Linked DNA regions of Homo sapiens: regions 1, 2 and 3 are each linked to region 4. Evidence: fine-mapped expression QTL. A gene starts in region 4. Each other region holds a variant in brackets. All regions are shown on one strand. Distances are between the middles of the regions.

Region 1 (8,000 bases), 21 kb before region 4:
AAAAACCTCCATCTCAAAAAAAAAATTACAATTTCTTAGTCACTGGGTAAATTAAATTCAATTTAATTCTGCATTACAGCCCTTTGCCCTGATTTTTTGGAAACTGAAATCTCGTGTATAACAAATGCATATGTAAAGAACTATCAACATGTTGGAATATTCAATTTATCAGAACAAAAACATTAGTCTACATTATTAACCAGACCCAACTTTACATAAAAAGCAGGGTCCTGAATGGCTTCTAATTTTTAAAATAGAACCAAAATTATCATATAACCTCCGTGATTATTTTAACAATTAGCCAATTAAAGGTTAATATATGTGGAGAAAACTCACTCTTCACTTTAACATCGAAATAGTAATATACTTACCTATTCATAGTTCCAGATACATCAACATCATTCATAAAACATTCAATGCTCAAAGGGAGATCTGAAGCATTTGCACTCATCAATTTCTTGAGTTTCTCACACTCCTGAGAGAGTCGTAATAATGCACGGATTTTGGACTTAATGTCTAGCTTGTATTTCTTCCCAAATTCTTCACAGAAGTGATTTACTAACACTTCATCAAATTTTCTACCTCCCAATGTCGTGTCAAATGCAGTGGCCAGAACCTTAAGGAAAAAATGAGAATTAATCTAACAATTAACCAATCGATTTTGAAACAGATGATATATATTTACCTGGTAAGTTGTTTATCTAAAAAAAAAGAGGGAGGGTTACATTAAGGTTAAAACAAAGCAATGTATACATCATTTAATCCTTATTACCCCACACTGTAAAAATAGGCACTATAATCCCCAATTTACAGATAATGCTACAGACCTAGACAGATGAGATAAACTGCAGTTCACAAAGCTACTAAGTGGTAGAAGTGGAATTCAAAGCCAAATCTCCTTAATTCCAAAGTCCATGCCCTCCCCACTACACCAGTCTGACAACCAATAGCAGTTACATGTCCAAGGTAAAATATACTAACATGTCATGTACATACTTCTAGTCTACTCAGTATCACAAAACTGAGTAATACCAAAGGCTCAACTCTCTGCAGTTTACTACCAAAGGATTCCTTAAAGCCTTAGCTCACCGCAATGTGTTTCTATTTAACCTGGAAGTCTAATTAGCCTGGGTTACCCGTTTTCAAATCTCTAACAGATTAGAAGCAAACTAGATCTAATTAGATTCAGTAATAGAAGTTAGGCTAAATAAGTGATGACATCCTTATGAAGGAATAAAACCAGTAAAAACAATCTCTTCAAAGAATGCTACACGTCATGGGGGAAATTTTCTTAGTATGTTAACTTAAAAAAAGACAGGACACAGAGCTAAATATAGTGACTCCAATTCTGTTTTCTTAGAAAATTAGAATGAAATACATCAAGCTGTTAAGAATGGTAAGATTGTAAGTAACTTTTCTTTATTTTTTTTTCTTTTTTTTGAGACAGGGTCTCACTCTGTTGCCCAGGCTGGAGTGCAGTGGCACAATCTCAGCTCACTGTAGCCTCGACCATCCAGGCTCAAGCAATCCCGCCACCCCAGCATCCCAAGTAGCTAGGACTACAGGCACACATCACCACATCCAGCTAATTTTTGTATTTTCTTTGTAGAGACGGGGTTTTGCCATGTTGCCCAGGCTGTTCTCAAACTCCGGGCTCAAGCAATCCCCCCACCTCAGCCTCCAGAGTAGCTAGGACTACAAGCACACCGCCACACCCAGCTAACTTTTGTAGAGACAGGGTTTTACCATGTTGCCCAGACTTGTCTTTACACATAAATGTTTTCCAATTTGGGGAGATTTTTGTAATGAATATTTTTATAATTTAAAAGTAATCAAAAGGATTGCAAAACTGACAGGTGACAGGTAACACAGAAGGACAATTTAGAAAAACAGAAGCAGATGGCTACTAATACACATCGTTCTGATCCAAAGCCAGGCTAAATTATAACCAGAGTCTTCCGTTTAAAAAGATGAAAGCATAGCATAGATCTTAGAAATTCTATTAGTGATTAAAGTTTAAACACTGAGAATTACATTTGGTCCACCATTTATAGCTGTCAAAAAGCAAAATCACAAATCTCTCATTTCCCAATTATCTAAAAGACTCGCTTTCTTTTTATTTAAAAACAAAACCACCTAGAAACAATATAAAACCAGAAAATAAAGTGGAAACGTCTATTTTTCAAAGAAACAAGACCATAACAAATGAAGTCTCAAAATGCCTCCAAAATTACCAAATATTTAGTTTGGGGTAATCCCTCTCCACCAATCTCCAATGGGTACAAGGCAGTCAATTCAGACCTTGGCACCAACAATTTTAATATACAATTCAAATAATTAAAGCAAACACTTGAGAAATCCTTGGTTCTTCACCAAATTCTAGATAAAATCATCTAGACAGAGAATTTTATACCCTACTGTGGAACTAGCATAAACCAGCAAACTCAACTATGACAGAGATCAATCACCCTCTGGCCCCTCCTTGCCTTCTATACTTCTGTGTGTACAAAACTGCTTAAACTTTAGGCTTTCTAGAAATCTATAATTCCTAGTCCAGTTTGTTTTGGCATCCAAAAGAAACCCCTTTTCCAGAACACTCAAAACCTCATGAGCAAGAGTACAGAGCACCTGTACCACCCTCTCAATCCCCAGTGTAAAATTCACCAAGGAACTACATGTTAAAAAATCCTCCTGCTGGGCGCCGTGGCTCACGCCTGTAATGCCAGCACTTTGGGAGGCCGAGGCAGGTGGATCACCTCAGGTCGGGAGTTCGAGACCAGCCTGACCAACATGGATAAACCCCGTCTCTACTAAAAATACAAAATTAGCCGGGCGTGGTGGCACATGCCCGTAATCCCAGCTACTAGGGAGGCTGAGGCAGGAGAATCGCTTGAACCTGGGAGGTGGAGGTTGCGGTGAGCCAAGATCGCGCCATTGCACTCCAGCCTGGGCAACAAGAGCGAAACTCTATCTCAAAAAAAAAAAAGAGAAAAAAAAGAAAGAAAAGAAAAAAAATCCTCTGAATAACCCTGTAAGGTATGCATTGTTTCTCCCATATTGTAGATGAGAAAAAATCATTGTCTCTCAAAATTTCATAATTACCATACTACTAACAGTCTTCTGGAAAAAAAATATATACTTACTTTCAGTTTTCCTCTATTAAATGCACATACAGAAACTTGATAAGCAGAGTGGCCCATGTCTACAAAAACTACATTTCTTGGTTTCTCTTCTAAGGCAGGAAGATCCTGCTTATAGATTCCATATGCAAGAGCAACTACAGAAGAAAAAACACAAAAATTAAAAATAACGTCTAAGTAAATAAAATTCATTTAAGCAGGAAAAAAGAGGTTTTATATATAACGAATGCAACTACATGTGTTATGTTTTAGAAATCAAATTCTTTATAAGCACTGTATAATTTATTCAAGAAAAAGATTATCTTCCAAGAGTTAAATACTGATATTCACTTAGACTTCCTTACAGTTGCCAATGGACTTTGGCATAATTTTCTCCAAGCCATTTCCCCCATTTTCCAAATATATTTTCCTGGATCTTTTCTACCCCTATGCTATGTTAACATCCCCGCATGTTCTGTCCATGAGATGCTGCTTAATGTCCCATTCCTCTGACTCTACCAGTCCACAAGTCTAAGAGAAGACCAGTCTTTAACCCAAAGCACTGCTCCACACGCTAAGTGTTCTCCTTCCCCAACAAGCATGTGTTTAAATACCAAAATGCATGCTATAAAGGTACACAAAAAGCACTGGTCAGATTAATTCTTCACAAGTGACACAGTATCCAAAAACACCATGACCACAGTGGTAAGCAAGAGCAGCAGTGCTGAAAGCAAAATAAAGAGCAAGAAACCCCAGGGTTTTAAAATTTCACAATCTTCAAGATTAACCAAGTCAAAAAAATAATCAACGGTCCTCCTTACCTGCAGTGGTTTCATTCATTAATCGCAAGCAATTAAGACCAGCAATCTGTGTTGCATCCATCACTGATCGTCTTTCTGCATCAGTATAGAAACAAGGAACCTACAAAAAAAAAAAAGAATGCTTACTGTATTATAGATTCTAATTTTAGTTAGTAAAATCCAGGAACACCATCAAATACCTACAGCAATTTATTCTGTATATGATCAAGAAAATATTTCAAACTAGTAGGGAAAAGTTAGAATATTTAGTAAGCAGTGTTAGGATAAACAAATAGCCGTACCATTACCTTACATATACTCATTACATGGCAGACCAAAATACCAACAGCTGAAGTAGTGACTGCAGAGAAGAGTTAATATAAAGGCCAGAAACTGCTATCCTTAGAAAACACCTGCTTGCATGTTGGTCCTTGCCTGGCATCTAGGACCTTGATTTGC[A/G]AACAGTTCACTAAATCAATAGAAAAAATTTCCCTAAATGATTAAGAGTGGTTCACTGTACCTAAACTGTTTATATAAACATGCAGCTTGTGCTGACTACCGGCTTTCCTTCTGGGAGTTGGAATTTTGGTTCATGCTAGGTATAGGGTACCAATGTGACAGACCCCTGATGAAAACCATGGACTAGCCAGGCGTGGTGGCTCACGCCTGTAATCCCAGCACTTTGGGGGGCCGTGGTGGGTGGATCACCTGATGTCACGAGTTTGAGACCAGCCTGGCCAACATGGTGAAACCCCATCTCTACAAAAAATACAAAAAAAAAAAAAAAATAAACCACTAGCTGGGTGTGGTGGCACATGCCTGTAATCCCAGCTACTCCAAAGGTTGAGGCTTGAACCTGGGAGGTGGAAGCTGCAGTGAGCCAAGATCATGCCACTGCACTCCCAGCTGGGAAACAAGAGCGAAACTCAGTCTCCAAAAAAAAAAAAAAAAAAAAAAACAACCCTGGACCAGGCTAGGCAGAACTCCTGTGGTAGAGGACATTTCACCCGTATTGTTACAACCTGTTGCTGGAGTTAAGCACAGGCTGACTCTGGGAAGCTTGTGCCTGGTTTCCTCCAGACTCTGCCTCATGTGCCTTTTCCCTTTGTTGATTTTGCTTTGTATCCCTTCACTACAATAAATCTTAGCATGAGAATAGCTATACGCTAGGGCCCGTGAACCCTCCTAAGCAAATTACCAAAACTCCAGTGTGATCTTGAGGCCCCACCCAAACATGACTCAACACTATCACCTTTTAACTTGATACCCAAAACTGGAAGACACTTACGCATTCCAATATTTTACATAAATTTTACTCCCACACAGAGTGTTATGCAGGATCAAAGCTAGGGGCACTAGATGGAGGAATGGAAACAAATCTGGGAGACCAATGGAAGAGCTGAGGAAAGGTAGGAAACATCTAAGAAATACAGGATCTGGTGTATCAGCCACTGGGGAATCAAGGTCACTGAATCTGAGCTTTTTAAAGGAACACAGAATTTTCATTCTTCTATAAAGAATAAAGCCCACCCCCAGAATGGTGTACACAACTATAATCCAATTCTTTCTGACAAATGTCAATTCTACTTTACAATAACCAAGGACCAAGAAATCCGCCAGGCAACAGACTCTGGGGTGAAAAAGCCACCTAACAGTCCTTGCTTTGCCAATCAATGCACCAACATTAAGACAAAAGAGGCCATGAAACTAAAGTATCAGGTAACAATTACAGAATGAGGAGATTCGGTGGCAAAGCCAATGTAACCACACATATTTCAACAGTCCCTAAGGATTCCACCAAACTAAAGCACAAAACTACAGTAGCCAGGCTTCCATCTTAACAGGGATATGCAAAAGATAAAGTCAACTGCTGCCATGTCTTTGTTTTTTGGATAAGTTTTTTGAGACAGGGTCTCAGTCTGTTGTCCAGGCTAGAATGCAGTGGTGTGATCACAGCTCACTGCAGCCTCAAACTCCTGGGCTCGAATGAGCCTCCCAAGTAGCTGGGACTACAGGTGTGTGCCACCATGCCCAGCTAATTTTTTTTTTTTTTTTTTTTTTTTTTTGGTAAAGACAGGGATCTCATTGTGTTGCCCAGGCTGGTCTCAAACAATCTTCCTGCCCTGGCCTCCCACAGTGCTGGGATTAAACCACCATGCCCAGTCCTTGCCTTTGTCTTTAACGCTAGATACCAACAGCAAATACAAATACAGAACAAGTGCCATTTACAATTAGGGGTATCCAACTAATTCAACAAATGAGTGGCTACCCTGTGCTATGCTAGGCGATGAAAAAAATACAGGAAGAAGTGGGCAGGCTGAGATGAATGCACCTTGAAAAACAGAAGAGATTTAAATAGGCAGAATAACAAAGGAGGCCTGAGCAAAAGCTAAGCAGCAGAAGAGAGTAAGAAAATGAAGACTAGTTTCATAAATTTTTTTTTTCTTTGAAACAGAGTTTTGCTCTTGTCACCCAGGCCGAAGTGCAATGGCATGATCTCGGCTCACCGCAACCTCAGCCTCCCGGGTTGAAGTGATTCTCCTGCCTCAGCCTCCCGAATAGCTGGGATTACAGGTGCCCATCACCACGCCCAACTAATTTTTGTATTTTTAGTAGAGACGGGGTTTTACCATGTTGGCCAGGCTGGTCTCGAACTCCTGACCTCAGGTGATCCACCCACCTTGGCCTCCCAAAGTGCTGGGATTACAGGCGTGAGCCACTGCACCCGGCCTGACAAACATTTTAAATAACCATTACAACCTGAGACAAAAAAACAAGTTTACTTGAAATTAGCAGCTTTCTTCTCTCTGCTTCTTCATGCAAATTCCCAATAATGTATAGGGATCAAACTCACCGAAACAACACAGTCAACTACAGGCTTCTTAAGAACACTTTCGGCTGTCTCCTTCAGTTTGGACAAAAGCATGGCAGTCACTTGCTCAGTGGTAAAATTTCGCTCTTCCTCCATATATGTCACCTGCAAGAAAACAACAAAGGGGCCTAGACTTATTATATTTCTTTCTTCATGTCCTAGTCCTAAAAGCTAAAATGAACAATGCTTCCCATTATCAATGCAACATTATCTCAAGAGGGGATTGAAAAAAAAAAAAAGCTAGTTTTCGAAGTAATACCTTGAAGGTCACTTTTAGCTTCTTTTTTTATTATTATTATTATTTTGGAGGCAGGGTCTCTCTCTCTGTCATTCTCTCTCTCTGGAGCGCCGTGGCATGATCACAGCTCACTGGAGACTTAACCTCCTGGGTTTAAGCAATCCTCCTGCCTCAGCCTCCCAAGTAGCGGGGAGCAAAAGCACATGTCACCATACCTAGCTAATTTATTTTTTTCTTGCAGAGACAGGGTTCTTGCTTTGTTGCCGATGCTGGTCTCAAAACTCCTGGCTTCAAGGAATCCTCCTGCCTCGGCCTCCCAAAGTGCTGGGATTACAGGCATGAGCCACCACGCATAGCCTATTTTAGCTTTCAACCAAACACGATACTTGGAGATGAAGGACCACAGTGTAAAACAACAAATCTTAAGACAACTTCCTTTGCAAAGACAAATCAGTGTAGCTCACCATGACCCACACTGTCCCTCCATAAAGAGGCTGCTGGTAGAAACTATTTTACTATCTGACATACTATGTGTATTTTAATGTGTTTACTGTTTATTATCCATCTCCACAATTAGGATTCAATCTAATATGAGGACATGCATTTGTCTGATTGTTCACTGCCATAGCTCCAGCACCTAGAACAGGACCTGGCACAATATATACTGGTTGAATTAAATAATAAAAGATGGGCTAGGTGCAGTGGCTCACACCTGTAGTCCCAGCATTTTGGGAGGCTGAGGCGGGCAAATCACTTGAGGTTAGGAGTTCAAGACCAGCGTGACCAAAATGGTGAAACCCCATCTCTACTAAAAACACAAAAAATTAGCTGGGCATGATGGTCCATGCCTGTAATCCCAGCTACTAGGGAGACTGAAGCATGAGAATTGCTTGAACCCAGGAGGCAGAGGTTGCAGTAAACCTACATCGTGCCACTGCACTCCAGCCTAGGTGACACAGTGATATTGTCTC
Region 2 (8,000 bases), 40 kb before region 4:
AACAATAGAAATCATTAAGAACAAACACATATACAGACTACCTTAAACTTCAAAATGAGTCATGTTGGAAAACTGTTTTTGCTTTTTTTACTTCGTTCTCTTTTGATGATGATCTAAGTAACTTAGGACTACCATAACATCTAGAAAATAAAAAATAAGTAAATACAATGAGGTATCTAGAGCAGTCAAATTCATAAAAATGGAAGCAGAATAGTGGCTGTCAGGGGATGGGGGAGGGGAATAATGGAAAGTTATTTAATGGGTATAGAGTTTCAGTTTTTCAAGATGAAGTTCTGAAGATTGGTTACACCACAATGTCTATCTACTTAACACTACTGAATGGTACACTTAAAAGCAGTTAAGATGGTAAATTTTATAAAATACATATCTCCTACAATCCCGTATCAATATATAATTACTATTAAAAATTTTTCTACCTTTATTTAAACATATAGACATTCAAATGAAGTTAGTGAGGAGGAGGGTATGAAATATCTATGGATCAGTAGTAACATATTGGTAATTTGATTTCTATAATGTCTGTAACTATTTATATTCTCACAAGGAAAAAACTCATTCCACTGCACCCTGTCCACAAATGAGAATTCATTTAACATCATCTCACTGTTATTCAGTATGAGTTTCTTTTAACCTTTTTCAGACACTTACAAGCCATATGTAACTATTTCCTCAAACTGCCTAGTAATATTTTATCCACTCTTCTCTTAGGATTGCAGTGTTTCTTTCCCCCACAAACAACTGACTCTTCTAGTTTTTTTTGTTTGTTTTTTTGAGATGGAGTCTCGCTCTGTAGCCCAGGCTGGAGTGCAATGGCACAATCTGAGCTCACTGCAACCTCTGCCTCTCAGGTTCAAGAGATTCTCCTGCCTCAGCCTCCTGAGTAGCTGGGATTACAGGCTCCTGCCCAGCTAATTTTTGTATTTTTAGTAGAGATGGGGTTTCACCATGTTGGCTAGGCTGGTCTCGAACTCCTGACCTTAGGTGATCCGCTGCCTCAGCCTCCCAAAGTGCTGGATTACAGGTGTGAGCCACAGCGACTCTTCTAGTTTTTTCTAACTGTATTATTTGTCTACATATAAGTTTTGACTGTCAAATCTATCCATCTTTTCCTTTGAGATTACTTATGTTGCTTTCATACTCTGAAAGCCCTTCCTCATCCACAGATTAGAAAAATATTCACTTCAAGCTTTTTCAACTTTCAACTTTAGAATTCATCTGGAATTCAATTTGTTCTATGATAAAGCAAAACCTTAATGTCATTTCCCACCTCCTATAACTAACTTAAGTCGGCTGCTGAAATTTATCTATCATTTCTATTTCATTTGCCTTTAGAAGCAATGCTATGCAAAAGGCACTTTAGTTTCTGAGCCATCCCAAGGAAGCCTAGATAACTAATACCTCTAAAACCCCCTCCCACAGCTCAAAGGCATTGGGGAAGCAGCCGTCACTTCTCCCTTCTCTTCACCCACCTTCCACAAACATATAGGAGAACAAGTCCTTGTCTCTGCCACTGCTGCCCCCATCCCACCCAACAACATAAAGGGTCTTCCATCTTGAAAAAGGCCTGACCCAACTAAAGAATCTGTAAGCACCATTTCCTGTCCATTTTCCTTTTTAATATTACTTGCACAGCTAAAGAAAAGCAATTAAATTTTGTTAATTGACATGAAAATATACAACGGACTTAAGCCACTTTAAGGTTCTGTCCAACTTTTTTAAATGTCACTTTTAAATTAGAAATTTGTAAAAATTAGAAACTTTTTAAAATTAGAAACTCCTAAGATGGTGAGATTATACATTGTAATTTTATAAATAAAAGATATTTTCAATGATAAAAAAATTTAAACATGACAACTCAAAATTAAAGAATAGGTTGTAAAGGATTCAAAAATGTTACTACTCTTTTTGAAATAAATACATTATTTACATTAATCACAAAATATATTTAAATCCATTATTCCATTATTTAAAATAACTTTTTAAGATGGAGTCTTGCTCTGTCGCCCAAATTGGAGTGCAGTGGCACAATCTCAGCTCACATAACCTCCATCTCCCAGGTTCAAACAATTCTCATGCCTCAGCCTCCTGGGTGGCTGGAGCTACCAGCGTGTACCACCCCACTGGGATAAATTTTGTATTTTTAGTAGAGACGGGGTTTCACCATGTTGGCCAGGCTGGTCTCACTCCTGACCCCAAGTGATCCACCCACCTCGGCCTCTCAAAGTGCTGGGATTACAAGCATGAACCACTGAACCAGGCCCCATGCCTTTTTATTAAAAGTTGTTATTTTGGCTGGGCGCAGTGGCTCATGCCTGTAATCCCAGGGTGCTGAAGTGGGAGGATCACTTGAGGTCAGGAGTTCAACACCAGCCTGGCCAACATGGAGAAACCCTGTCTCTACTAAAAATACAGAAATTATCCGGGCGTGATGGTGCACGCCTGTAGTCCCAGCTACCCAGGAGGCTGAGGCATAAGAATCGCTTGAACCTGGAAGGCGGGGGCTGCAGTGAGCCGAGATCATGCCACTGTACTCCAGCCTGGGCGACAGAGCTAGAGTCCATCTCAAAAAAATAAAAAGATTAAAAAGTAAAAGGCATGGATCATTGATGATTTTGAAAATTTTTTCAGTTTCATTATTGTTTATCAGTAATGAATTAAATTATGGGTAGAAAGACTTAGTATAAGCCATTCAGAAACTAGCATAAATAAATCACTAGCCTAGTAAAACTAGGATTCCTGAGTGCTTTCTTCCCATGTATCAACCAGGAGAGAGTTTAAAGGCCATCTTGCAAATAGCACATTACAAATCACTACAAAATCTTCCTAAAAAAATTGTTCAAATAAATTAAGAGTTTCTAGTATAACTATCTTTCAAGACACTGCCCCTCAGCCAAAACCATGTACTTTAAAAAGACTGCAGTGCATACTCTAAAACACAACTCAGCCGGGTGTGGTGGCTCACGCCTGTAATACTAGCACTTTGGGAGGACAAGACAGGTGGATCACCTGAGGTCAGAAGTTCGAGACCTGCCTAGCCAACACAGTGAAACCCTAACTCTACTAAAAAATACAAAAAAAAAAAAAAAATAGCTGCCGTGGTGGTGGGCGTCTGTAATCCCAGCTACTCAGCAGGCTGAGGTAGGAGAATCACTTGAACCCAGGAGGTGGAGGATGCAGCGAGCCGAGATCATGTCACTGCACTCCAGCCTGGGCAACAGACTGAAACTCTGTCTCAAAAAAAAAAAAAAAAAAAAAAAAAAAAAAAACACCACCCAATGCATACCTCCATTTCTTCAGACTCTGCCTTATTTTCTGCTGGTGTCTGCTGCTGTTGCTCTTCAACATGTGGTTCCTCCTGGTCCACTTGCATCTTCTGAAAAACAGGTCAAATTAAATCCTGCAATTAGGAAGACTAAACAACCTTCATTACACATTGACAAAGTCACATAGTTATGTAATTCCTGCTGAATTACCAGCAATCAGAAGGCCTATGCTAAAATTCCAGGTAGGCCACATTACCTAGGACACAGAAGTTTTCCGCTCTGGATCTTAGTTAATACATCTGTACAATGAGGATAACACTCGCCCTGCCCTACCCTTACATACACAAGAATAACTGTGGAACTGCTTTGTACACCATTAAGTACTCACAGTTCACAATGTGGCATCATTTAATACAATCTACAAAATACAACCTGAAGAGAGCATAAGCTTCTCCAGGCTTCCTCAAAGGTATTTTCTCTCAAAAGTTCCAACTTTTTCAAATAGTTCCTAAGTCAGCCTCTCTTCATCCTCAAAAGTATGACCACTGCATGTGCTCGGGGAGGCGAACACGTTAAAATTACAAAGCCTAAAAATAACAATGAAAGAAGGTTTGTGGAGAGCCTGAACCAGTGGCTTCTCAATGCCTGCAACATATTAGAATGACCTGAGAGGCTTTTAAAACTACTGCTACCTCAGCTCAGACCAACTTCAGTAAAATCTGTGGGGATGAAACCCAAGCATTTGTAGTTTTGTTTTCCTTGAGGCAGGGTCACACTCTGACACATAGGCTAGAGTGCAGTGGCGCAAACAGGACTCACTGCAGCCTTGACCTCCTAGGCTCACGCAATCCTCCTGCCTCAGCCTCCCATGCAGGTGGGACCACAGGTGTGTGCCACCACACCTGGCTAGTTTTTTTGTTGTTGTTGTTGTTGTTTTTAACTTTTTGTAGAGATGAGGGTCTCACTTTGTTGCCCAGGCTGGCCTCAAACTTCTGGGCTCAAGCAATCTTCCTGCCTCAGCCTCCCAAAGTGCTGGAATCATAGGTAATTTGTAGTTTTGTAAAGCTTTGATTCTGATGCACAATGAAGACAAGACCCAGTGCATAATTCCAACAAATGAGTGTACAATCAATTCTACTTTTGAAAATAATTAACTGAGACTCAGAGCACTCTTCAACAACCAGAATCAGGAATAACTCAAGTTGAGAAGTGTATGATCTGAAAGAAGAAATCAACTTGTGTTCCACTTCTATACAAATTCTGCATAAAAATCTACTGCTGGTTCACTTATATTGGGGGAAGGGCAAACATACAAACCCACTCTCACTCAGCAGCTCTGTCACAATGCTCCGGCCTTGCCACCAAGTCTGCTTGCTACAATTTCTAGACAAGTCACCTCTGGGCCATCACAAGTGGTATACAATGTCTAGATTACCTCTTCCTCCTTTGCATTCTGATCTGTTTCCATTGGCTCCTCATTTTCCTCAGACTTGTGAACCTCCACTAAAGATGCACTGGACACACTGAAAATGCCATGGACATTTACTCGAACTTTGACTTTCACTTTTGAACTGGAGCCATCAGACTGAGGAGTGACTTTCTGAACTGAAAACTGAGCTAGGGACATACGAGAGACAAAAGAACACAT[AAC/C]CTAAGAGGATGAATTCAAGCATGAATATATGCCTACATTGCTAGATTATGTCTACTTTCAATGATAGCTCAGTAACATGATGCTTAAAATAAGCAAAATCGGTCCTTTTAGAATCTTATTAAATCATCAGATTTCTCTTTCTTCTTTCACAGTCTCTTATTATCTTATCCTGCCCCAATTAAGAACTCAAATATCTCCCGATTCTTTCCTTTCTTCCAATTTCTTATTTCCATTTATCTTTATATGCTACTTTCAGATTAATTCCTAAAACAGATTTGTCACATTCTCTACTCAAAAAACAAAACAGAAAAAAAAAATGATTCCACTCTGCTTGTCGTTTATCAGTAAATTGCCATTTCTAGGTCCAGTGACTGTACAAGGTTTTTATTTACATTTTCTTCATTCCCAGAACTCTGCAAAGTATGAATTATCATTGTTATTCCTGGTTTTACAGATTTACAGATGGGGAAAAAAGAATAGGTTAACTTTCCACAGCTTCTAAATGCCATTCAGGATACTCCTAATTTCTTTACCCATATATTCTAGGTCTTTATACTATAACTAGTTTCTATCTCTTCTCAACTAGTATTATTTCCAGATAAGAGTTTCCCAGAGTCTATAACTACTCTAGATAACACGGTTCTGAAACCTAGTATGTTTTGATATTGTATCACCATCTCCTAATGATTTTCTATATACATCCTTTTTTTTTTTTTTTTTTTTTTTTTGAGACAGAGTCTCGCTCTGTCGCCTAGGCTGGAGTGCAGTGGCGTGATCTCAGCTCACTGCAAGCTCTGCCTACCGAGTTCACGCCAGTCTCCTGCCTCAGCCTCCCAAGTAGCTGGGATTACAGGCGCCCGCCACCACACCTGGCTAATTTTTTTTTGTATTTTTTTAGTAGAGACGGGGTTTCACCATGTTAGCCAGGATGGTCTCGATCTCCTGACCTGCCCGCCTTGGCCTCCCAAAGTGCTGGGATTACAGGCGTGAGCCACCGCACCTGGCTATTTTCTATATACATCTTATAACTGTATGTTAGGGTCCAAACTGAATTTCGTTAACTCCTTATAGTATATAGCACCACCTTATACATAAGTTATAATTACAATGTGCGCTAACCAAGAAAAACTGCCGATACAATGGGAGATCCAATTAAATAACAGCCATTTGGCTGGTTCTAAACCTGCTAACGAGACTGGAAGAGGTTTTCTTTTGCAATCTAAAGCCCCTAAATTTCAGAATACCATACTTGTTCTTTCTACTATGCGAACTCTCCAAGTAGATAAGCTTTTTTTTGTTGTTGTTTAAATGGAGACAGGGTCCCACTATGTTGCCCAGGCTGATCTCGAACTCCTCAGCTCAAGTGATCCTCCCACCTTAGCCTTTCAAAGTGTTGGGATTACAGTTGTGAGCCACTGTGCTTTTTTTTTTTTTTCTTTTTTAATTTCCAACTCTTTACTTACCTATAGCAGGATCTGGATAGGGCAAATCCTGAGGAGAGCTGTAGTAGGCCTCAAGAGTGAAAGGTTCCTTTCTATAAAATGTAAGAACTTTAGAGAAAGGAGCAGCATGATTTTTGGAAAAGACTTCACAGTCACTGAATGGAGGAAAAAGACAAAAACACAAATTCAGGATATTCCTAACACTTTTACCCATGTGTTCTAGGTTTGTAATTATTGTACAGTGTTAGTTTCTCTCTCTTTTCAATTGGTATTATTTCCAGATTATAAGAGTTCCCAAGAATCTTTATATATAAAGTCAGTAAAAAAGGAATATACGTCAATCTGCACATAAAAGGCACTGATGATTTCAGCAGAATCAAGTGTGAGAAACTAATTAAGGACACAAATTTATTCTGACTAAAATAAATGACCACTTCCTTCATGCACTATGATAAAATGTTACAGATTTATGTAAACTGAAATGAAAAGCAACATATTACTCAGACCTAATAGTCAATTAACTTTAGATATGTAAATGATTAATAAACATGATACCTTGACCCTTCTTCAGCTGGAGAATTCCATCTCAGAGATATTGGATATGGTACTACATCAGTGATAGAAAATTCTCTGACTTTGAAAGCAGGCGATAAGATGGCACACTAGAATAATAATTTTCAAAAATTCCGTTTAACAAGTATAGACAATATAAACTGATAATATCACTTAAACATACAAATTACTTCAGAAAATCAATGGTCTTTTTAAAATATTTATATTAGTAATTTAATGGTGTCTGAACAGTTTTACAAACTTCTATCATGTCAATTACCTATATAATCTAGCTATTCCTTATTTTTCTATTAACCCCAACCCTTATTTAATTAATGTACACTATTTCATACAGACATACATAACAGGCCAAACTTCCAGTCATACTTCAGGCTCAGAGTTACCTATGTTTCTAGTCAATTAATTCATCTTATGTGCTATAGAGTACAATTATTTTTAGGAACATCACCTCTATTTTAAAACAAAGGTTTTGGAATCTCAACACCCTGAAGTCACCCTGAGCTAATCCCAGGTTATTAGATACATAAACCACTGCCATCTTGTTACAATGATTTATAAATGGTTACCTATAAAAGAAAGAATATTCACCTGCAATGCACAGCCTCGAGTGACAGCTTCATCAGCATTTAATGTTGTACTAAGTTCTTTACCGAAAAATTTGCTGATCTTCTCTTTTACCGCAGGGATTCGTGTAGCACCACCAACTATCTCCACTGCATAAATATCTTCTTTCTTTAACTCTATTTTTAAAGAATTAGACAGATTTTTTTAATGAAATGAAAGAACAATAACATCTTACCATGATGAAATAACTCAGATGTGTAACAAAACTCCTCCAACTCCCTCACCCACCTCCGCAACACACACATACTCATGCCCACACTCACAGAGGCAGGTGGCATCTGGAAACAAGTAGGTGTTTTAATTCTCAAAATAATGGGGGAAGGGTAGCTAGTGGGATTTAGGAGGTGAGGGCCAGGAATCCTCAAATGTACTGCAGTGTACAGGTCCTGAATTTCTCACACAATCTCACACAAACAAGTGTTAAAA
Region 3 (8,216 bases), 540 kb after region 4:
TTTTTAAGACGGAGTTTCACTCTTGTTGCCTAGGCTGGAGTGCAATGGTGTGATCTGGGCTAACTGCAACCTCTGCCTCCTGGCTTCAAGAGATTCTCCTCCCTCAGCCTCCCGAGTAGCTGGGATTACAGGCATGTGCCACCATGCCCAGCTAATTTTGTATTTTTAGTAGAAATGGGGTTTCACCATGTTGGTCAGGCTGGTCTTGAACTCCTGACCTCAGGTGATCCACCCACTTCAACCTCCCAAAATGCTGAGTTTACAAGCTTGAACCACTATGCCCAGCCCAATCATATGGTTTTTGTCCTTTATTCTGTTCTATTAGCATGGGGTATTAAATTTCTTTAAATTCCTGGGATAATCCCATTTGGTCATGGTGTATGCTCCTTTATATATGTTCCTGGATTTAATTTACTAATGTCTTATTGAGGATTTTGCATTTCTGTTCAATAAGGAATATATCTTAGTCTGTTTTGTGCTGCTATAACAGCATACCTGAGACTGGGTAATTTATAGTGAATGGAAATTTATTTTCCCATAGTTCTGGAGGCTGGGAAGTCCAAGATCAAGGTGCCAGTAAGGCACCTGCTACATCATCATGTCACAGAAGGTGGAAGGGCAAAGAGGCAAAAGGAGCCCAAACTTGCTCTTTTATAATGGTGTAAATCTTATCTTTGATCAGGTTGAAGAGTTCCCTTCTATTTGTAGTTTATTGAGCATTTAAAAAGATTATACCCAATAATTGGATTCTGTCAAATGTGTTTTCTGCATTGATATCTGCATCAGTCAAAGCTAAAGAGATTTTTCCTCTTCATACATTTAGCATGGTGGATTACACAGATTAATTTTTTTTTTATTATTATTATACTTTAAGTTTTAGGGTACATGTGCACATTGTGCAGGTTAGTTACATATGTATACATGTGCCATGCTGGTGCGCTGCACCCACTAACTCGTCATCTAGCATTAGGTATATCTCCCAATGCTATCCCTCCCCCATCCCCCGACCCCACCACAGTCCCCAGAGTGTGATATTCCCCTTCCTGTGTCCATGTGATCTCATTGTTCAATTCCCACCTATGAGTGAGAATATGCGGTGTTTGGTTTTTTGTTCTTGCGATAGTTTACTGAGAATGATGGTTTCCAATTTCATCCATGTCCCTACAAAGGACACGAACTCATCATTTTTTATGGCTGCATAGTATTCCATGGTGTATATGTGCCACATTTTCTTAATCCAGTCTATCGTTGTTGGACATTTGGGTTGGTTCCAAGTCTTTGCTATTGTGAATAATGCCGCAATAAACATACGTGTGCATGTGTCTTTATAGCAGCATGATTTATAGTCATTTGGGTATATACCCAGTAATGGGATGGCTGGGTCAAATGGTATTTCTAGTTCTAGATCCCTGAGGAATCGCCACACTGACTTCCACAATGGTTGAACTAGTTTACAGTCCCACCAACAGTGTAAAAGTGTTCCTATTTCTCCACATCCTCTCCAGCACCTGTTGTTTCCTGACTTTTTAATGATTGCCATTCTAACTGGTGTGAGATGATATCTCATAGTGGTTTTGATTTGCATTTCTCTGATGGCCAGTGATGATGAGCATTTTTTCATGTGTTTTTTGGCTGCATAAATGTCTTCTTTTGAGAAGTGTCTGTTCATGTCCTTTGCCCACTTTTTGATGGGGTTGTTTGTTTTTTTCTTGTAAATTTGTTTGAGTTCATTGTAGATTCTGGATATTAGCCCTTTGTCAGATGAGTAGGTTGCGAAAATTTTCTCCCATGTTGTAGGTTGCCTGTTCACTCTGATGGTAGTTTCTTTTGCTGTGCAGAAGCTCTTTAGTTTAATTAGATCCCATTTGTCAATTTTGGCTTTTGTTACCATTGCTTTTGGTGTTTTGGACATGAAGTCCTTGCCCACGCCTATGTCCTGAATGGTAATGCCTAGGTTTTCTTCTAGGGTTTTTATGGTTTTAGGTCTAATGTTTAAATCTTTAATCCATCTTGAATTGATTTTTGTATAAGGTGTAAGGAAGGGATCCAGTTTCAGCTTTCTACATATGGCTAGCCAGTTTTCCCAGCACCATTTATTAAATAGGGAATCCTTTCCCCATTGCTTGTTTTTCTCAGGTTTGTCAAAGATCAGATAGTTGTAGATATGCGGCATTATTTCTGAGGGCTCTGTTCTGTTCCATTGATCTATATCTCTGTTTTGGTACCAGTACCATGCTGTTTTGGTTACTGTAGCCTTGTAGTATAGTTTGAAGTCAGGTAGTGTGATGCCTCCAGCTTTGTTCTTTTGGCTTAGGATTGACTTGGCGATGCGGGCTCTTTTTTGGTTCCATATGAACTTTAAAGTAGTTTTTTCCAATTCTGTGAAGAAAGTCATTGGTAGCTTGATGGGGATGGCATTGAATCTGTAAATTACCTTGGGCAGTATGGCCATTTTCACGATATTGATTCTTCCTACCCAGGAGCATGGAATGTTCTTCCATTTGTTTGTGTCCTCTTTTATTTCCTTGAGCAGTGGTTTGTAGTTCTCCTTGAAGAGGTCCTTCACATCCCTTGTAAGTTGGATTCCTAGGTATTTTATTCTCTTTGAAGCAATTGTGAATGGGAGTTCACTCATGATTTGGCTCTCTGTTTGTCTGTTGTTGGTGTATAAGAATGCTTGTGATTTTTGTACATTGATTTTGTATCCTGAGACTTTGCTGAAGTTGCTTATCAGCTTAAGGAGATTTTGGGCTGAGACGATGGGGTTTTCTAGATAAACAATCATGTCGTCTGCAAACAGGGACAATTTGACTTCCTCTTTTCCTAATTGAATACCCTTTATTTCCTTCTCCTGCCTGATTGCCCTGGCCAGAACTTCCAACACTATGTTGAATAGGAGCGGTGAGAGAGGGCATCCCTGTCTTGTGCCAGTTTTCAAAGGGAATGCTTCCAGTTTTTGCCCATTCAGTATGATATTGGCTGTGGGTTTGTCATAGATAGCTCTTATTATTTTGAAATACGTCCCATCAATACCTAATTTATTGAGAGTTTTTAGCATGAAGGGTTGTTGAATTTTGTCAAAGGCTTTTTCTGCATCTATTGAGATAATCATGTGGTTTTTGTCTTTGGCTCTGTTTATATGCTGGATTACATTTATTGATTTGCGTATATTGAACCAGCCTTGCATCCCAGGGATGAAGCCCACTTGATCATGGTGGATAAGCTTTTTGATGTGCTGCTGGATTCGATTTGCCAGTATTTTATTGAGGATTTTTGCATCAATATTCATCAAGGATATTGGTCTAAAATTCTCTTTTTTGGTTGTGTCTCTGCCCGGCTTTGGTATCAGAATGATGCTGGCCTCATAAAATGAGTTAGGGAGGATTCCTTCTTTTTCTATTGATTGGAATAGTTTCAGAAGGAATGGTACCAGCTCCTCCTTGTACCTCTGGTAGAATTCAGCTGTGAATCCATCTGGTCCTGGACTCTTTTTGGTTGGTAAACTATTGATTATTGCCACAATTTCAGATCCTGTTATTGGTCTATTCAGAGATTCAACTTCTTCCTGGTTTAGTCTTGGGAGAGTGTATGTGTCGAGGAATGTATCCATTTCTTCTAGATTTTCTAGTTTATTTGCGTAGAGGTGTTTGTAGTATTCTCTGATGGTAGTTTGTATTTCTGTGGGATTGGTGGTGATATCCCCTTTATCATTTTTTATTGTGTCTATTTGATTCTTCTCTCTTTTTTTCTTTATTAGTCTTGCTAGCGGTCTATCAATTTTGTTGATCCTTTCAAAAAACCAGCTCCTGGATTCATTGATTTTTTGAAGGGTTTTTT[G/TG]TGTCTCTCTTTCCTTCAGTTCTGCTCTGATTTTAGTTATTTCTTGCCTTCTGCTAGCTTTTGAATGTGTTTGCTCTTGCTTTTCTAGTTCTTTTAATTGTGATGTTAGGGTGTCAATTTTGGATCTTTCCTGCTTTCTCTTATAGGCATTTAGTGCTATAAATTTCCCTCTACACACTGCTTTGAATGCGTCCCAGAGATTCTGGTATGTGGTGTCTTTGTTCTCGTTGGTTTCAAAGAACATCTTTATTTCTGCCTTCATTTCGTTATGTACCCAGTAGTCATTCAGGAGCAGGTTGTTCAGTTTCCATGTAGTTGAGCGGCTTTGAGTGAGATTCTTAATCCTGAGTTCTAGTTTGATTGCACTGTGGTCTGAGAGATAGTTTGTTATAATTTCTGTTCTTTTACATTTGCTGAGGAGAGCTTTACTTCCAACTATGTGGTCAATTTTGGAATAGGTGTGGTGTGGTGTTGAAAAAAATGTATATTCTGTTGATTTGGGGTGGAGAGTTCTGTAGATGTCTATTAGGTCTGCTTGGTGCAGAGCTGAGTTCAATTCCTGGGTATCCTTGTTGACTTTCTGTCTCGTTGATCTGTCTAATGTTGACAGTGGGGTGTTAAAGTCTCCCATTATTAATGTGTGGGAGTCTAAGTCTCTTTGTAGGTCACTCAGGACTTGCTTTATGAATCTGGGTGCTCCTGTATTCGGTGCATAAATATTTAGGATAGTTAGCTCTTCTTGTTGAATTGATCCCTTTACCATTATGTAATGGCCTTCTTTGTCTCTTTTGATCTTTGTTGGTTTAAAGTCTGTTTTATCAGAGACTAGGATTGCAACCCCTGCCTTTTTTTGTTTTCCATTGGCTTGGTAGATCTTCCTCCATCCTTTTATTTTGAGCCTATGTGTGTCTCTGCACGTGAGATGGGTTTCCTGAATACAGCACACTGATGGGTCTTGACTCTTTATCCAACTTGCCAGTCTGTGTCTTTTAATTGCAGAATTTAGTCCATTTATATTTAAAGTTAATATTGTTATGTGTGAATTTGATCCTGTCATTATGATGTTAGCTGGTGCTTTTGCTCGTTAGTTGATGCAGTTTCTTCCTAGTCTCGATGGTCTTTACATTTTGGCATGATTTTGCAGCGGCTGGTACCGGTTGTTCCTTTCCATGTTTAGCGCTTCCTTCAGGAGCTCTTTTAGGGCAGGCCTGGTGGTGACAAAATCTCTCAGCATTTGCTTGTCTATAAAGTATTTTATTTCTCCTTCACTTATGAAGCTTAGTTTGGCTGGATATGAAATTCTGGGTTGAAAATTCTTTTCTTTAAGAATGTTGAATATTGGCCCCCACTCTCTTCTGGCTTGTAGAGTTTCTGCCAAGAGATCCGCTGTTAGTCTGATGGGCTTTCCTTTGAGGGTAACCCGACCTTTCTCTCTGGCTGCCCTTAACATTTTTTCCTTCATTTCAACTTTGGTGAATCTGACAATTATGTGTCTTGGAGTTGCTCTTCTCGAGGAGTATCTTTGTGGCGTTCTCTGTATTTCCTGAATCTGAACGTTGGCCTGCCTTGCTAGATTGGGGAAGTTCTCCTGGATAATATCCTGCAGAGTGTTTTCCAACTTGGTTCCATTCTCCACATCACTTTCAGGTACACCAATCAGACGTAGATTTGGTCTTTTCACATAGTCCCATATTTCTTGGAGGCTTTGCTCATTTCTTTTTATTATTTTTTCTCTAAACTTCCCTTCTCGCTTCATTTCATTCATTTCATCTTCCATCGCTGATACCCTTTCTTCCAGTTGATCGCATTGGCTCCTGAGGCTTCTGCATTCTTCACGTAGTTCTCGAGCCTTGGTTTTCAGCTCCATCAGCTCCTTTAAGCACTTCTCTGTATTGGTTATTCTAGTTATACATTCTTCTAAATTTTTTTCAAAGTTTTCAACTTCTTTGCCTTTGGTTTGAATGTCCTCCCGTAGCTCAGAGTAATTTGATCATCTGAAGCCTTCTTCTCTCAGCTCGTCAAAATCATTCTCCATCCAGCTTTGTTCCGTTGCTGGTGAGGAACTGCGTTCCTTTGGAGGAGGAGAGGCGCTCTGCGTTTTAGAGTTTCCAGTTTTTCTGTTCTGTTTTTTCCCCATCTTTGTGGTTTTATCTACTTTTGGTCTTTGATGATGGTGATGTACAGATGGGTTTTCGGTGTAGATGTCCTTTCTGGTTGTTAGTTTTCCTTCTAACAGACAGGACCCTCAGCTGCAGGTCTGTTGGAATACCCTGCCGTGTGAGGTGTCAGTGTGCCCCTGCTGGGGGGTGCCTCCCAGTTAGGCTGCTCGGGGGTCAGGGGTCAGGGACCCACTTGAGGAGGCAGTCTGCCCGTTCTCAGATCTCCAGCTGCGTGCTGGGAGAACCACTGCTCTCTTCAAAGCTGTCAGACAGGGACACTTAAGTCTGCAGAGGTTACTGCTGTCTTTTTGTTTGTCTGTGCCCTGCCCCTAGAGGTGGAGCCTACAGAGGCAGGCAGGCCTCCTTGAGCTGTGGTGGGCTCCACCCAGTTCGAGCTTCCCGGCTGCTTTGTTTACCTAAGCAAGCCTGGGCAATGGTGGGCGCCCCTCCCCCAGCCTCGTTGCCGCCTTGCAGTTTAATCTCAGACTGCTGTGCCAGCAATCAGCGAGATTCCGTGGGCGTAGGACCCTCTCAGCCAGGTGTGGGATATAGTCTCGTGGTGCACCGTTTTTTAAGCCGGTCTGAAAAGCGCAATATTCGGGTGGGAGTGACCCGATTTTCCAGGTGCGTTCGTCACCCCTTTCTTTGACTCGGAAAGGGAACTCCCTGACCCCTTGTGCTTCCCAGGTGAGGCAATGCCTCGCCCTGCTTCGGCTCGCGCACGGTGCATGCACACACTGGCCTGCGCCCACTGTCTGGCACTCCCTAGTGAGATGAACCCGGTACCTCAGATGGAAATGCAGAAATCACCCGTCTTCTGCGTCGCTCACGCTGGGAGCTGTAGACTGGAGCTGTTCCTATTCGGCCATCTTGGCTCCTCCCCCCACAGATTAATTTTTGTATGTTTAATAACTGTTACGTTCCTGGGAGAAATCCCACTTTGTCATGGAATATAATCCTTTTAATACGTTGCTGTATTTGGTTTGCTAGTATTTTATTAAGGACTTTTTCATCTATGTTCATAAAGTATATTGGTCTGTAGTTTTCTATTTTCTCTTGAGTCAGTTTTGGTAGTTTATGTGTTTCTAGGAATTTGTCAATGTTATCTAAGTTATCTAATTTTTTGGCATACATTGCTCATAGTATTCTCTTATAATCTTTTGTTGGTAAGGTCTGTAGTAATGTCCCCACTTTCATTTTTTATTTTAGTAATTTGAGTCTTCTCTCTCTTTCTCTTTTGGTCAGTCAAACTATAGGCTTGTCAGTTTTTAACTTTTCTATTGTTGTTCTATTCTCTATTTTGTTTATCTCTGCGCTAACTTTTATTATTTCCTCTCTTCTTCTTGCTTTAGGTTTAGTTTGCTCTTCTTTTTCTAGCACCTTAAAATGGAAGGTTAGGTTATTAATTTGAGATCTTTCTTTTTTTAAAATGTAACTGTAAAGGTGTAAATTTTCCTCTGAACACTGCTTTTACTGTATTCTATCAATTTGGGTACATTGTATTTTCATTTTCATTCATCTTAAAATATTTTGTAATTTCCCTTTTGATTTCTTCTTTGCCCTATGGGTTCTTGAAAAGTACATTGTTTAATTTCCACATATTTGTGTATTTGCCAGATTTCTTTTTGTTGTTGCTTTCTAATTTCATTCCTTTTTCGTAGGAGAAGATATTTTATTTGATTTCTTTTTTTTCTTTTTTTTTTTTGAGATGGAGTTTCGCTCTTGTTGCCCAGGCTGAAGTGCAATGGTGTGATCTCGGCTCACTGCAACCTCCACCTCCTGAGTTCAAGCAATTCTCCTGCCTCAGCCCCTCGAGTAGCTGGGATTACAGGCATGCACCACTACGCCCAGCTAATTTTGTATTTTTAGTAGAGGTGGGGTTTCACCATGTTGGTCAGGCTGGTCTCGAACTCCTGACCTCGGGTGATCTGCCTGTCTCGGCCTCCCAAAGTGCTGGGATTCCAGGTGTGAGGCACCACACCTGGCCCTGTTTGATTTCAATCTTGTCTAATTTATTGAGACTTGTTTTGTGGCCTAACACAATGTCTCTTCTATAGAATATTTCCATGTGCAGAGAAGAATAATATGTATTCTGCTGTCATTGAATGAAATGTTCTGTAGATGTCTGTTAGGTTTGGTGGCTTTTATTGTTGTTCAAGTCTTCTATTTCTTTGTTTACCTTTTGTCTAGTTGTTCTAGCTACGATTGAACATGAGTATT
Region 4 (8,173 bases):
GCTGAAAGAGTCGTGGCTGCTCTTCAATGTATCAAGGATGCAGCTCTTCTTGCTCAGGTCTTTCCCACTTGCTGTTCCTTCTGCCTGGAACAACTCTTCCTCAAACCTACTGTGACCTCCAAGGTAAAATCCTACTCATCCTCAGGTCTCAGATGGTACTTCTTTCAAAGCACCTTCTACCCAACTTATTTTTGAGACAGAGTCTCGCTCTGTCACCTAGGTTGGAGTGCAGTGCATGATCTCGGTTCACTGCAACCTCCACCTACCAGGTTCAAGCGATTCTTCTGCCTCAGCCTCCAGAGTAGCTGGGACCACAGGCGCCCGCCACCACACCCAGCTAATTTTTGTATTTTTAGTAGAGACAGGGTTCCAGCATGTTGGCCAGGCTGGTTGCGAACTCCTGACCTCAAGCGATCCTCCTACCTCAGCCTCCCAGAGTGCTGGGATTACAGGCATGAGCTATCGTGCCAGGTCCTTCCATCCAATTTAAATTAGACCCGCTTATTCTATACTCTCACTGTATTCTGTACTTTTCCACCTTGCCCTTTACCACAGTTAGTAATTACTACATATTTTTGTTTAGTATTTGGTTTAATCCACCAGCCATGTCCATAATGGCATGACCTTATTTGTTCACCACAGTACCTCCAGTGCTTAGAAAAATGGCTACCACATCAGAGGCACTCAACATCTGATAAAATGAAGGAAGCCTAAATTGGGTGGAAAATCAAGGGTCTCTTCTGGATGAGACTCCACTGGCTCCTCAAAAACCTAATCCAGATTGTTACACCCATATCTGAAACGAGGTACTTCCACCATCATAAACCCTCTAAGACTTGCATCTCATTTCCACTCTCATGTTAAAACAAACCCACAACATGCAGTCTTTTTTACATATGAGCTCCAAATCCATTCCTCCATAACCGCTACCAAAAAAAAAAAAAAAAAAAAAAAAAAAAAAATCAACCTTCCTGCTACCATTTTCTATTTAGCCCAAGACTCCAAAACAGAGTAATCAAAGTGAATCAAAATCATACAGTTCAGAAATCACTTGAAATGTATGGCATGCCTGTAAGTTAATGAAAACTATGAAGGAAAATATAAAGAAAACATGTAAGGAAAATTATTTAAATGGAATTTTCTTATCACAATTCCGTGGTGTATGGGGTCATATATATCACAATGTCTTTGAGGCAAATTTTTTATCTGCAACAACTCAGTTTCAAATAGAATTCATGGTATAATTGTTGTAGCTATTGTCTTTCTAAAAGAAAAACAGGAGCATGTGATAATAATCTAAAAGAAAGGATAGGAACACTGTTCTTCCCCATACTTGGGATTCTCTTCCTGTGCGCCCTTTGGAACTAAAGCGTGTTCAATCACAGGGCAGGAAAGGACCAAAACACTAAATACATTAACTCAGCGCTTTAGCCTTTTCAGTTCCTTAGGGGAGACATTTTATAGACCAAGAAAACACGGATACAAAGATATTCTCAAATACTAAAATGCTTAAAAACAAACTTTAATGCTTAAAAAAAAACTTCAGGGCACAATACACTTCCCTGGAGATGCCAAGTTAGACTACCCATTGTTAAAAAGTACAAATAGGGAAAATAAACTGCTAAAGGGCACAGGGCTTTGGGGGAGTGATAAAAATGTTCTAAAATTGATTACAGTAATGGTTGCACTGTTTTGTGACTACACTAAAAACGATCACTTCATCTGGTTAAATTGTATAGTATATGAATTAAACCTTAATAAAGCTGTGCCAGGTGCGGTGGCTCACTCCTGTAAACCCAGCACTTTGGAAAGCCGAGGCAGGCAGATCACTTGAGGTCAAGAGTTCGAGCCCACCCTGGCCAACATGGTGAAACCCTGTCTCTACTAAAAAAGACAAAAATTAGCCAGGCGTGGTGGCGCACACCTGTAATCCCAGCTACTCGGGAGGCTGACGCAGGAGAATCGCTTGAACCCAGGAGGCGGAGGCTGCAGTGAGCCGAGATTACGCCACTGCACTCCAGCGTAGGGAACAGAGTAAGACTCCTTTTCTCAAAATAAATAAATAAATAAATAAACCTTAATAGGGCTGTTAACAAGACTAAACTCAGCAAAGGGACAGCAAACTACCGTTTTGGCTTCTGGGATGAGTTTTCAGGGGAAGCACCTGGGTTAGGAGGTGGGGGGTGCGGAAATTTGACAAGTGGAAAGGAAATGTGAGACTTCTGAACAATCTAGTTTCGCTGAAACCTGCTGAAGAAATGTGACAAAAATTGAGGGTGAAAATAATGGACCTTAGAATTGAGCCCCTGGGGCCGGGCACCGTGACTCACGCCTGTAATCCTAGCACTTTGGGAGGCCGAGGCGGGAGGATCACTTGAGGTCAGGAGTTCGAGACCAGCCTGGGCAACTCGACAACACCCCGTCTCTACTAAAAATACAAAATTTAGCCGGGCATGGTAGCACGCGCCTGTAATCCCAGCTCCTCAGGAGACTGAGGCAGGAGAATCGCATGAACCCCAGAGGCCGAGGTTGCAATGAGCCGAGAGCATGCCACTGCACTCCAGCCTGGGGCGACAGAGCGAGACTCCATCTCAATCAATCAATAACAAGTGAGCCCCTGGGCAGGGCACGGTGGTTCATGCCTGTAAGCCCAGTACTCCAGAAGGCCGAGGCTGGAGGACTGCTTGAGTCCAGAAGTTCGAGACCATCCTGAGTGACATAGTGAAACCCGATTTCTACTAAAAATAAATAAAATTAGCCAAGCATGGTGGCGCACGCCTGCAACGCCAGCTACTCAGGAGGCTGAGGTGGGAGAATCACCTGAGCCAGGAGCCAGGGAGGTCGAGGCTGCAGTGAACCAAGATCGCACCACTGCACTCCAGCCTGGGCAGCCAGAGTGAGACCCTGTCTGTCTCAAAAAAGAAAAAAAAAAAAAAAAAAAGAAGAGAGACCCTGAATGGCAAATAATACAGAACTTCTTACAAGATTTTGTCTAAGAACACGACAACGGATTAAAATGTATCTACAAGTATTCAAAAGGCAGACACTGTAACCAGTGAAAGACCTGAGTGACCCACCATTTTTTAGAACTGTGTCTATGCTGGTCCCAAAACTTACTATGGGTTCTAGAAGTCAAGGCGGGCCCTTGAGCCACTAACAATTGTGGCCAACACACTGGTTAGAATGCATTATCGTTAAAGTGCAACCCTATTGAGGGGTTAACGCGCACAAAACAGAGAGTGACCCAATATAGCACAATATCCCGAAATAATGTGGAAAACAAAAGCGATTGCAAAGTTATCATAAGAGCACCGATTTTATTAAATTCCTATCCGTGCCAACCCAATCTCAAGACCCCGAGTCCATCCGGAACCCGTGCCTGAGGCTGCTCCAGCTCGCTCTCTTCCGGGCGCTGCCCCGCCCCCACTCACGTGGGACGCTGACCGCTCCACGGTCTCGCGGCTGGCAAGCCCCAGAACCCGTTCGATTCAACTATTATTAAGCGCCTGCTGTGTGCAAAGTTCTGAGCTTTCTGTTGGACTCAAAAGACTCAGTACGACCTGGGCCTGGTCTCTGCCCTCAAGAAAAGGACCGCGATCCGTTTACATCCTAGGCCTGCAGTCCTTCCAGTTCCTACCCGTGCCCTCCGCTGGTCCGAGTACCGGCCAGAAGCCTTTCTTCGGCCGACGGGCCACCGGGGAAAAGGCCCTCGCGCTTAGCACACACCCACGCTCATAGTGGGCCGCGGCCCCTAGTGTCCTAATACCTACTGGGGGTCCCTGACCTACCGGGACCTCGGCTCGGAACGGAGGCGACTCCTCGGCCCGCGTTCCCCAAGCAGCGAGGGTCCCAGACTGGAACAAGCATTATCTCCTAACCCCAGTGCACGCGGCAGGCCCGGCCCACACTTACGGCGTGCAGCGGTCGCTATACTCATTAGCGATAGTCTCGATGCCGCCGGCGCGGGCCACAGCGACGTAGCAGCTCTGGAAGCCCAGGTCTATGCCCACCACCGACATGGCGCCGGCTACTGCTCGGGCTCGGGCCCGGGTCCGGCCACCGAGACAGGACACGGACCCCCGGCGGGGCTAGCGAGTGGAAAGCAGGCCTCTTGGGCCGAGGCTACTGAGGGGCTTGCGGTGTCCACGCGAGCGCCTAAGTCCTTCCAGTGGGTACTGCAACCGAGAGCGCTGCTCAGGCCGGCTCCGGCTCAGTGGCCGCAGAGGAGGCGCCGGTAGCGGGGGCGGAGAAGATCTCGAAAGATCTCGTTGCGACGAGAGCGGAGCCGCAGCACCAGAGCTACGAAAGAACGGGATGTTCTCGCGATATCCCGGCTCAGGCGCTTTTCCCCTTGAGGCCCCGCCCCCAGTACGTCTGAATACGTCACGTCCTGGCTCGAGAACCTGGGAAAGGACTGGGTGGCTGAAAGATGGCTGGAAAGCGCATTTAGCCAACCGAGCCTGCGCATGGAACCTGCGGCGCTGCACAGCTGCATAGAGATGTGGAGCACCTCCCTTTACCGTAGAAAGTAGGCGAGCCAGCTCGAGGCACTATACTGAGGAAGCGCTGCGGCCTACTTCCGCCGTTTTTCTTAACATCAAAGAAACTTCCGGTAGTGGGGTGTCTTGCATTCCACCGTGTCGGTGCCCCAGAATGAGACGCAAGCTGATCTGCAGATCCCGCAGGGTGCCTTCTGCTCTTTTCGGGGCAGGTTGGCCGGTAGGGGAGAAGGCCGCCATTGGAACGCGGCCTTTATGTCGGGTTCTCTCAAGAGTCTAAGATCGCACCCTCACCAGCGGAGGGAAGGAGCCCACTCCCAGCCACACCGCTTTGTTTTCTTTCGCTTAGCCTTGTTGCGCCGTTCTCTAAGCCACTCATGTCCTTAGATCAGATTGAGGGGCCCGCAGGATTTAAGCCTTTAATCCACAGCACATTCCAAGCACCTACCCGGTGGTAGGCCCTAACAAGGAACACAGGCAAGTGACACGCTGCCTGGCCTGAAAGGTCCGCTCAGACCTTTACATGAAGTTAATAAATGTTAAGCTTCAGGGCCCCTCGCTTGTATGGCCTCCTGGGAGAATAGATAGTTGCTGAGTTGTGGAGAGGGGAAGCCAGCTTGAGATTAGGAAGCAAATCTATGTAAGCATTTCTAATAAATTACCCAGAGAGATCTAAGGAGAATCTGAATCTCCAAGTCTCTAGTAATGTGTTGTGATTTGTCGTTTTAATTATTTGTTTTGTGTATTTGTAGGGCCCCCCAATGGTATATAAGTTTCACCTCTGCAAAACCTGGATCATCCCCATCATGAGGGTGGCTAAACAAGTAAAGGTGACCCCAGTACAGAATGGCGAGTGCTATATGCACAGAATGGTGGAGACTAGGACAACTTCCCAGAAAAGGAAAAGGCTGTGTTCAAGTTTGGAAAACTAGCAATAGAGACCATAGTTTAAGGACTAAAAAGAAATTCTCCGTTGCTGGAGGGTACATCATGAGTTGAAGGTCTCAAGGCTAGAGTACCTGCCCTTCAGCCATTTTAAAAGTGAATGAGCAAAGAAGAAATTACATTGCCCTGGTATGCCCTTCCCTTTAAATACCTGCATTTCCTGCCACCTCCGGAGGTACTTCACTCTATAGGAGCAACCCCAAACCCGGGTTGATTACCATTAAAACTTGCAAATGGCCACACTGTTCTCACATTTTGCCTAACTAAAACCTGTTAATTCTTCAAAGACAAGTACCAGGTGCTACCTGTAAAAGGGTACTGGGAATAAAAAGAGTAGAGGCAGCCAGGAACAGCCTTTGGAAAAACGAGAGCAGGGACATATTTGTACATTGTATACCCATGTTCATAGTAGTTTATTCACGGTAGCTAAAAGGAGGAAACAATCCACATGTCCATTGACAGATGAATGAGTTTTCTAAATTTAGTGTATACGCGTAACAGTACATTATACAGCTTTGAAAAGACAAAGGAATGAAAGTCTGATAAATGCTACAGCATGAATGAACCTTGAAAATACGCTAAGTGGAAAGCCAAACAAATCAAAATTAATTTTTTTTAATTTTTAATTTTATATTCAAAATTTAATATGATTCCACTTGTATCAGGCACCTACAATAAACTACATAAAGACAGAAAAGCGGTTTCACAAGTAGAGTGAAATGGAGAGTTAAGGGATACAGAGTTTCAGTTTGGGAAGATGAGAAAGTTCTGGAGATAGATGCTGGTGGTAGTTGCATAACAATGTGCATGATCAGTGACAGATTTGTACATTTAAAAATGATGAAAATGGTAAATTTTATGTATATTTCACCACAATTTTTTAAAGTTTTTTTAAGTTAGGTTGACCTTGACCTTCCTTCCTCTGTTTTTCTCCTACCTAGGGGCAATATCAATAATACCAAGCACACTGTTGACCTTAATTATGACAGAGTCCTGTCTCCATCTGTTTATCTCAGTTGTTAATCACTGAGCAAACAACCCGAGCTGCCTAAGCTAAAGTGTCCAGTGGACCTAAAAGATCACTGTCTGTGTTACTGCCTGTTTCTGCCTTCCTTCTATTGGAAGACCTCCCTAGGTCTTAGCTAAGTTGATGAAAATTACACCCATATCTTATTATGTTCCAACTTCATACCTCAACTGCCTTGTTTGCCTTGGTACTGCTTTCAGTTTAAAATACCACCAGCCCTATCAATCTTTTTAATGATTTGTCCTTCTCAAAATAAAACATAACTACCATCAGTCACAGAGAGTACTCATCCTCCTATAAATAGTTTCCTGGATCATCAAACTTATAGCTTAAGAGATTATTCTGGGATATTTAAATAAATGAAGTCAGGAAAAGGTTATTTTAGAATCCTGAAGAATCTAACGTGGCAAGTTTCCAAGTATCACAGTTGCGAACCAACGAAGTGTCCAGAATATTTAATGTTGGAGGCACTGTGTTCGGAGAACAAATTCTTTCCATTTGGCAGAGTATCTTAGGTATTTAAGTATTTTAAAAGCAGGAAGTTGTTAAATGCCACTCTCAAATACAACGATTAAATTTAGTCCTAAGCAATCACAGAAGTGTTTGTTTTTAAATATACAGTGTTCATAGGCTGCCCAACAAAAGACAAAAGGTTCTCCATCAGCTGGGGACTCATATTTCTCCCTGACAAGTGTCCAGTGGAATCCTGCCCTACGCTCTGGAGCAGCTTCTGCAATTTTTTGCTTCACAAGGAAACTACCTGCTCAGATAATGGTGATTTTCTGACTTCCCTGATCTTACAGTGAGTGGAGCAATGCTTTTAGTCAAAGCAACAACCCTTTCTTAAACACCAAAACTCCAATAACTCAATAATAATGGTAATTACCATGTCTCTGGCATTCCTACAGCATATGCTAGCATTACGCCAGACACTGTATTGATACCAATATAATTCCTTTACTCGTCATAGCAAGCCCATCAGGTAGGTGATATTTTTCCTATTTTATAGAGACCTGATAAGGTTAAGGTACTTGTTCAAGGTCACACAATTTTCTCACAACTACACTGCTTCTCTATTTCTTCTTTTAGATGATCGCTTTCTGTCACCCAGACTGGAGTGCAGTGTCACGTTCATAGCTCACTGCAGCCTGGGCTCAAACAATCCTCCCACCTCAGCCTCCTGAGTAGCTAGGACTACAGGCATGTGCTGCCACATACAACTCATTTTTTCATTTTTTTGTAAAAATGAGGATCTCTTAGCCAGGCACAGTGGCTCATGCCTGTAATCCCAGTGTGTCCAGAATTGGTAGGTTCTTGGTCTCCCTAACTTCAAGAATGAAGCTGCAGACCCTCGCGGTGTTACATTTCTTAAAGATGGTGTGTCCAGAGTTTGTTCCTTCTGCTGTTCGGACGTGTCTGAAGTTTCTTCCTTCTGGTGGGTTCGTGTTCTACGCTGACTTCGGGAGTGAAGCTGTAGAACTTTGCAGTGAGTGTTATAGCTTTTAAAGGCAGCGCAGTCTCAAAGAGTGAGCAGCAGCAAGATCTATTGTGAAGAGCAAAAGAACAAAACTTTCACAGTGTGGAAGGGGACCTGACCAGGTTGCGCTGCTGGTTGTTGGGGAAGGTGGGGGGCACGCAGCCTGCTTTTATTCCTTTATCTGGCCCCACCCACATCCTGCTGATTGGTCCATTTTACAGAGTG

What was found. PIP is the estimated chance that this variant, and not a neighbour inherited with it, causes the effect.
Region 1: its variant is fine-mapped to the expression of HSPA4 in whole blood (INTERVAL, PIP above 0.99).
Region 2: its variant is fine-mapped to the expression of HSPA4 in whole blood (INTERVAL, PIP above 0.99).
Region 3: its variant is fine-mapped to the expression of HSPA4 in monocytes after triphosphate RNA (Kim-Hellmuth 2017, PIP 0.95).

The regions. Positions count from the first base shown.
Region 1 is chr5:133,069,270-133,077,269 of GRCh38, reverse strand. HSPA4 (heat shock protein family A (Hsp70) member 4) reads right to left here. Exons shown (of 19, transcript NM_002154.4): 4 at 6,774-6,896; 5 at 3,941-4,040; 6 at 3,144-3,277; 7 at 372-616. Among named protein-coding and RNA genes, the nearest start is that of HSPA4, 21 kb to the right of the region's middle. The variant A/G (reference allele first, on the strand shown) is at 4,379.
Region 2 is chr5:133,088,094-133,096,093 of GRCh38, reverse strand. HSPA4 (heat shock protein family A (Hsp70) member 4) reads right to left here. Exons shown (of 19, transcript NM_002154.4): 9 at 7,539-7,690; 10 at 6,933-7,039; 11 at 6,399-6,532; 12 at 4,720-4,901; 13 at 3,305-3,394. Among named protein-coding and RNA genes, the nearest start is that of HSPA4, 40 kb to the right of the region's middle. The variant AAC/C (reference allele first, on the strand shown) is at 4,933.
Region 3 is chr5:132,512,629-132,520,844 of GRCh38, reverse strand. No RefSeq gene overlaps it. Among named protein-coding and RNA genes, the nearest start is that of IRF1, 26 kb to the right of the region's middle. RefSeq lists an enhancer at 1-69. The variant G/TG (reference allele first, on the strand shown) is at 3,838.
Region 4 is chr5:133,048,097-133,056,269 of GRCh38, reverse strand. HSPA4 (heat shock protein family A (Hsp70) member 4) reads right to left here and starts at 4,257. Exons shown (of 19, transcript NM_002154.4): 1 at 3,913-4,257. The coding sequence starts at 4,019. RefSeq lists enhancers at 2,081-3,043, 4,282-4,461, 4,652-4,701, 4,772-4,821, 4,008-4,970.